Linked DNA regions of Homo sapiens. The protein of the gene in region 2 interacts with the protein of the main gene of each other region in a biochemical or structural test. Each region holds a gene or a part of one and is shown on either strand. Other genes may lie near its edges.

The links.
Region 1: the proteins of LTF (region 2) and CP form a complex in vitro, tested with the Homo sapiens proteins (one study listed by BioGRID).

Annotation. Positions count from the first base shown.
Region 1 is NC_000003.12:149,180,135-149,183,888, reverse strand, and holds part of CP (ceruloplasmin precursor), read left to right. Parts: intron 1-283; coding exon 284-423; intron 424-1,755; coding exon 1,756-1,884; intron 1,885-3,754. UniProt on the Homo sapiens protein: Multifunctional blue, copper-binding (6-7 atoms per molecule) glycoprotein. It has ferroxidase activity oxidizing Fe(2+) to Fe(3+) without releasing radical oxygen species. It is involved in iron transport across the cell membrane.
Region 2 is NC_000003.12:46,451,210-46,454,963, forward strand, and holds part of LTF (lactotransferrin isoform 1 preproprotein), read right to left. Parts: intron 3,152-3,754; coding exon 3,096-3,151; intron 1-3,095. UniProt on the Homo sapiens protein: Transferrins are iron binding transport proteins which can bind two Fe(3+) ions in association with the binding of an anion, usually bicarbonate. Lactoferricin binds to the bacterial surface and is crucial for the bactericidal functions.

The sequences.
Region 1 (3,754 bases), about 100 Mb from region 2:
AAACTGAGGTTCCAATAGGCAGTGACTAGCTGGAGGAAATTTTCACTAGTGGCAGGGTAGAGGCCAGGACTCAGATGGCTGCACTCAGATGGCTAGGTATGCTTTCTACCACACAGACTTTTAAAGTCTTATTATGCATTCCTACTTGGATAGAAGAGTGATGATTTAAAACTACTATAATTACTCTAATAAAAACTATATTTTTATTCAAAATTTAAAGTTTAAAACTTAAGTTACATTTTCATTAAGACAAATACTAACCTTAGTTGTTTTTTTTTTTAAGTGTTTCAAATGCATTTTTAGATAAGGGAGAGTTTTACATAGGCTCAAAGTACAAGAAAGTTGTGTATCGGCAGTATACTGATAGCACATTCCGTGTTCCAGTGGAGAGAAAAGCTGAAGAAGAACATCTGGGAATTCTAGGTATGTTAATATCTCCAGTTTATCAGGTGTGGGTTAATGATGTGATGCTACCTGCAGTAACCGTCAATTCATGTCTATGGGTTTCATTTTCTTGGTTCATATATCAAAGTTGTTCAAATAAAAATTTAAAAATTAGTTATCTAATGAAATAAGACTGATGTTTATTAAATAATATGACATAGTAAAATATTACTTATTTCTCTTGGAAACTATGTATTGTCCCGTATACTGATGAAATTATATATATTTTATCAAATTGATGCCTGTAGTTTTAGTGAAGTTCCCAGAAACTATTTTCTAATGAAATTCTGTTTTTTGACAGAGTCTCACTCTGTCGCCCAGGATGGTGTGTAGTGGTGTGATTTCAGCTCACTGCAACCTGCCGCTCCTGTGCTCAAGTGAGTCTCCCACCTTAGCCTCCCAAGTAGCTGGGACTACAGGGATGGGCCACCACGCCTGGCTAATTTTTGTATTTTTAGTAGAGATGAGGTTTCACCATGTTGGCCAGGCTGGTCTCAAACTCCTGGCCTCAAGTGATCCGCCCACCTCAGCCTTCCAAAGTGCTGGGATTACAGGCGTGAGGCACTACACCTGGCCCTAATAAAATTCTTAACCAATTTATCCCCATTATCCTACCCATTCCTCTCAAATTACAGCTATTTACTTTTAAAATTAAAATATAAATGATTAATTACAAGAAGAAATATACAAAAGGAAATTAATTACAACAGGAAATAAAAGAAAAAATGATACCACGCACAAAGCAGGGGCAAAGCTGCCTTCAATTTTTTAGGACTCACTTTAAGACAGAATGTCTAGAACTCGAGCAACACTGGTCTTGAGACATTTCTTTAAAACTATCAATTGCAGGGACCCCCACTCCCATCCCCACCCCACTGTGTTCCCATACTGTCAGCATTCCCCTGAGGCTTGGTTATCCTCAACCCCTAGACTAAGACACCAAGGCAAAATGGCATTGTTGCTGGAGCACAAAAATCCTACCAGACAAGAGACAAGCTAAGATTGGATAAAGGGTAGAAATGAGAGGGGTATAAATGACTCCTGGCCAGATATCCAACCCACCATGATTAGACCGGTACTCTGCAAAGGACTTTCAGGCCAAACCTCCCCTAGAACTCTTAAGAGATAAACAAATGGTCTCCATTTTTATTTCCAGTGTATTGATTCCAAATTCCCTGGGACGCAGTATAAATCCAAGAGTATTATACCACAAACCCATGGGGGAGAGAAACAAGTTATCTTTGCTGATCTTTGCTTTTATTACTAAGTTAGACCTTCTGATTGGACACTCTTCCTCTTCACTTTTGCCAGGTCCACAACTTCATGCAGATGTTGGAGACAAAGTCAAAATTATCTTTAAAAACATGGCCACAAGGCCCTACTCAATACATGCCCATGGGGTACAAACAGAGAGTTCTACAGTTACTCCAACATTACCAGGTACTCACGGGGGCGGGGGTGGGGGTGGTGCATTTTAACAGGCTGTACAGCCTTTCCACAGATTACTCTCATCATAGAGAGTCTGGACCAAGAAAGTGAAAAGGGAGGTAGTTGTGAAGAGGGGATGCAAGGAGGTGTCTGTGTGTATGCAAGTACATGCACATGCTTGTACTAAAAAAAAAAGTCCACAGGAGAGCTTAAGAGAAAAACCTGAAGGTAGTAGACATCTATGAATCCTCAAGCGTGAATCAGAGAGATGCTGTCTCCTCGCTCAGCTAGAACACAGCTCAAATGGCATCTACCACACCATATGTGGCTGGATGTTCCCATGCCTGTCTCTAGCACATGTGGTTCTAAGGGCCAGAGGCTGCCACTTGGAACTCTAAATTCCCCCTATCTAGTACAGTATCTGGCATATATTAGGAGATCATCAAATGTTTCTTTAATAAACATAGAGTAAAATCTTGAACAGATTATATACATAGGTGAGCATTTTCTTTAATAAGAACCATATTTTTCTTCTATTAGTTGTAAAGTTGGCTTCCAGGAAAATACTATTTCTCAATAACTTAGCAGGGTGTAGCAAGGGTGCTATTTTAGGTAGAGAGGTCAGGAGGGCTTCCTTGAGGAGGTGGCATTGCTGAAAACACCTAAAGTTTGAGAAGTAATGAAATTCAGGTAATTGTGCACGAATTGATTCTAGGCCCCGAAGACAGGAGCAATGCCTGGTGTGTGTGAGCAGCAGCAAGGCAGCCAGAGGCTAAAGAAAAGCACACAAGGGACAGAATGCTAGAGATGAGATCCAGGGAGAGCAGGGGCCAGATGGAGTAGGGAGGACCTCAGACTCGAGATTTAAGACTGATGTTCTGATGGACACCTTTTAAGGGGCTGTTGGTGATGTGTGGTTAAGTGACCCTAAGGGGGCAAGGACAGAATCTGGGGTCAGTTAAGGACCACTGCAATAATCTGGGTAAAATCATCATCATCATCATCATCATCGAGATTTGGAATATGGTGGAAGCGGCTGAAGTGGTGAGATGTTATCATATTCTGGTTCCATTTTAAAGGTGGTACTAAAAGGACCTGCTGGAAAATGGGCACTAGGGAGTGTTAGGGAAGAGAGGAGTCAAGCATGACCCCAAGGTTTTGGGCACTGACCACTGGTGGAAGAGCAGGTTGTAAAGGGGTGTGGAAAAGAGAAGAAAATGTTATTTTGCAGCTTATGAGAATAAGTAAAAGCAGAGATGGCCAGACAGTAATATGTGCAGGTGGTGAATCAATACTTTATATTCTAGTGAAATTTTCTGCTTAGAAAAAGGGTGAGGACATAGGAACAGCTCAGACTGAGGCTTGAAGAAAAAGTAAGACGTCTACCACATCACTTGAGACCATCTCTGTTGTCTTGCTTGATTCTCTAGTGAATGTCTGTTGGACTCTGGCAGGTTAGTGTGATAGCATGAATATGTAATGGTGTGGTCTAAATAAATGGGATGGAAAATGAGTGTGGCTGGGATTGGTGAGTGGGCATGGCCAAAAGTTGAGGCCTGTGAGCAGTTGCACAGGAAGCCCTGAGGTGAATGGAAACGCAGATCAGACTGGAGAAAAGCCTAGAGCACATGGGAAAAGGGTAAGAGCCTTGGCAAAGCAGGAGGGTGAAGCAACTGGTCGTCTTCAAAATGCCAAGGCCGAGGGTGTGGTTATGTCCTGTATGTGGGAGTAGTGACAAAACAGCACATGGTGTGATAGAATGAGATGGACTGGAGGGGGAGGTAAACATAACTGTGTCAAGTCGGTGACTCATGAGATCAAGAGGTCTAACGGCTCCTCGCCAGGAATCATGAGCTCACTAAGGATGATCATGAGAGAGGAC
Region 2 (3,754 bases):
TAAAGTGAAAAAAATCTTGCCCGAGTCATTTTATGAGATTAGTACAACCTTGATGTCAAAATCAGAAAAAGTATAGGAGGGAAGAATTAAAAGTTTATTTTACTTACGAACATAAATGCAAAATTTGTAAATAACGTACTAACTAACTCAATCTCACAGAGTATTTAAAAAGCTAATAGATTGGAATGAAGGTTTACCAGTGTATTCCATTAACAAAAGAATGGCTGAACATCAAAAAAACTAAAGTAATCTGCATTTAATGGCAGAAAACCATGAGATCGTCTTCATCTTAATAGATGCAGAACGATTGTTTATGTGTTCAACATCTATTTGTGTGTGGTTTTTTTTTCAGCCTCAGAAAAATAGTAATAGATAGAATCGGTAAAGTTTTTTTGTTTGTTTTGAGACGGAGTCTCACTCTGTTGCCCAGCCTGGAATGCAGTGGTGCGATCTCAGCTCACTGCATCCTCCATCTCCTGGAGTCAAGAGATTCTCTTGCCTCAGCCTCCCAAGTAGCTGGGACCACAAGCGCACGCCACCAGGCCCAGCTAATTTTTGTATTTTTAATAGAGATGGGGTTTCACCATGTTGGCCAGGCTGGTCTCGAACTCCTGACCTCATGTGATCCACCCGCCTCAGTCTCCCAAAGTGCTGGGATTACAGGGGTGAGACACCACGCCTGGCCATAAGTTATTGGCTTGATAAATGCCATTAATCTACAGCAAAAACCTTACTAAAAGAAGAAAATGTAGACATTCACCGCAAAATCAGGAACAAGGCAAGGATGCCCACTGTTACAATGCCAGCACAATTCTAGATATCCAGATCACACAATTTACAAAAGAAATGTGAGATATAAACACTGGAAGGAAAAAGACACACTCTTATTTAAAAAGATGATATCGTCATCTACAAAAAACCAATGAAACCAACAGAAACTAATAAAACTACTCAGAGGAGTAACAAGTTATAAGAGCAACCTACAAAAATCAGATGTTATCCTCATTAACAATAACCAAATAGAAACCAATATGGACTATAAGATGTTACAATAGCAACTAAAACCATTAAGTAGCTAATAATTAGCCTCCCACAAAGACACATCAGACCCACAAAGGAAAAATTTTAGTTCTATCAAAGAAACTAAAAAGAGGTGTGATCAAATGGGGGAGATTTAGCATCACCATGGACTGGACAACTTAATGTTATAAATATGCTGATTTTTCATGGAACAATTTAAATTCAGTACAATTCGAATCAAAATTAAAGTATGATTTTTTCCAGAAATTCAACAAAATAATTCTGAAGTTTTAGCTGAGTATATTTGAAAAGGAATAATAAAGTGAGAGGGGAGAGGGAGCTCTCTCTCATTCTCTCTCTCTTCCTCTCACTGGCTCTCTCTCTTTCTCTCCACCAGATAGTAAGACCCATTGGTAAGCCACAGTAACAAAAGCAGAAAAAATGCAAATACACCAATGAAATAAAATAGCTCAGAAACTGGTCCACTTGGATATATACAAACTTGGTGTAGAATTGGCTTCACATATGGCAGAAAAAATATACTTTTTTTATTGTAAGGTAAATTGCCTCACTGTAAAGGGGATAAAATGCTAAAGCCAAATCTATATCTGACTTTCTAGGTAGAGCACATATAAATAGATGAGGAAGGGGATCTTCAAATCTTATTTTAGGAAATAATTATGATTTGGGTGTGAAGAAGGGCATCTTTGAAATATCTCAAAACTACAAACCAACAAGGTGAGGCTTGTGGATTTGACCTTATCAATATCAAGGATTTTTGATCAACAGAGACTACCGTTGTCAGATTTTTGACTGAGAAGAGGTTTTACTAAAGTTTAAAATCAGCAATAGTTTGATACCTAGATAGAAGGAACTTCTGTCCTTGAATCAAAATCATGCAGAAACAAGGTGTGAAACTCAATTTAAAAAGTAGTCAAATGTCACAAAATAAGAAAGGGAAGCCCAAACGGCTAGCAAATATGTTGAAATGATCAAACTCACCAGCTGTCAGAGAAATGAAAATTAAAAATAAAACGAACTATCTATTGCATTACAACCATCATTCGGACAAAAAGTATGAAAGTCAAAAATACTTCTAACTGAAGTTGTGGGGAAATTAGAACACTTGCAGAGTGTCATTCCAGACAGCAGCTTGGTGATCCTGGGTGCATGTGGGGTCTGTCTCTGGTGGCCCTGGGTGCATGTGGAGGTCTGTTTCTGGTGGCCTCTGATGAATGCGGGGTCTGTCTCTGATGGTCCTAGGTGAATGTGGGTGTTGTCTCTTTCTCTGGTGGTCCTGGGTGGATGTGGGGTGTGTCTCTGATGGTCCTGAGTGAATGTGGGTGTCTGTCACTTTCTCTAGTGGCCCTGGGTGGAATATAGTAGCCCTGTCTCTATTGGTCTTGCATGAAATGTAGTGAGCTTATGTCCACTAGTCCTGGGTGCAGTGTGTTTAGCCTCTACATACTCATCAACTGCTTTATTATAAGTCCAGGAGGGACGCTGTCCAGCACGTAAGTAAGGAACACAGGTGAAGGTATCAGTCGTGTGGCTGCATGTGGTAGAGGAAAAGAGAGCACAACCTCTGTCCATCACTATGGTGACAGAGAAGTAAAAGGTGGATGTATTCCACGGAACACTCCTCAACTGTTAGGACCCCTGAGCTAGACATGTATACAACAATACCGATAAACCTCTAAAACAAAATGCTGAGCAGAAAACCCAAGTAGCAGGATTTCTAATGCTCACTAAAACCTCTATGAACCCAGAAACCGGAAACACAAACCAGCACAATCTGTTCTGCATGAGCACATGTGTCTTGGAGGACTGGAGGACGCATTGCCAAGCACCTAGGCATGGGTGTCTATGAGGGGAAGAGAAAGGCAGTAGGCACAGGAGGTTTGAAGAAAACTGATCATTTAAAATATGAAAGATCATAAAATCAGAGCTGTGCCCTGTAGGAATCTTGAAAATGGTCTGCCATGAACTTAGGAATCTAATTAGCTCAAAGGTCAGAGTCATGATCAAGTAAGATAAAAGGGGTCAGTACCCACGGCTCATTACCCTGCTCTTACCAAACACTGTGCTCTCTCTGATAAAAGCCACGTCTCCAGCCCCGTCTCTCAGACACCTGTGAAAAGAGAAACCATCAGGGGTAAGCACAGGCAGCCCTCCCCAGCCCCTCCCTGTGGAACAGTAGCCCTGGCACTCAGCATCTATGGGTTTCTACTCCCTGCAGGGCAGGGCTCTGAAGCTTTGGGGCATCCCAGCTGGGAAGGTAGGGGCCCCCTCCAGGTAGATACTGAAGAATGACTCAGGTGCTAGCCAGAGGCCCCCATCTTCTGCTTTGAGGGCTAAGAGGACAAAACTTTTTTCTATATAAAGGAGAGTTTTGAAGCCTCTACCCAAGAGGGTAAAGCCTTAGCATCACTGTTCATGTGGCTGTTTTCCTCAGGACTGAGTGTGCAGGTGTGCCCTGGCCAGTGGGGAAGTGTGGAGGCCTCCCTCTGCAAAAATACGCTAGTGCCAGCAGACAGAATGGGAAAAGGGGGAGCTCAGCCTCCGCGTGGGGGCAGAGAGGATGGGGGCGAATCAGGCATTGCTCACTGTCCTTCAGCCACGGGGAGAGGCCCAGGTGGGCAGAAGGACATCAGCCTGGACACTGCAGCGGTCCTGCCCAACCAGGAGCCAGGACTGGACATCTCATGACAAGATGCCTTCAGTCCTGCTGTGG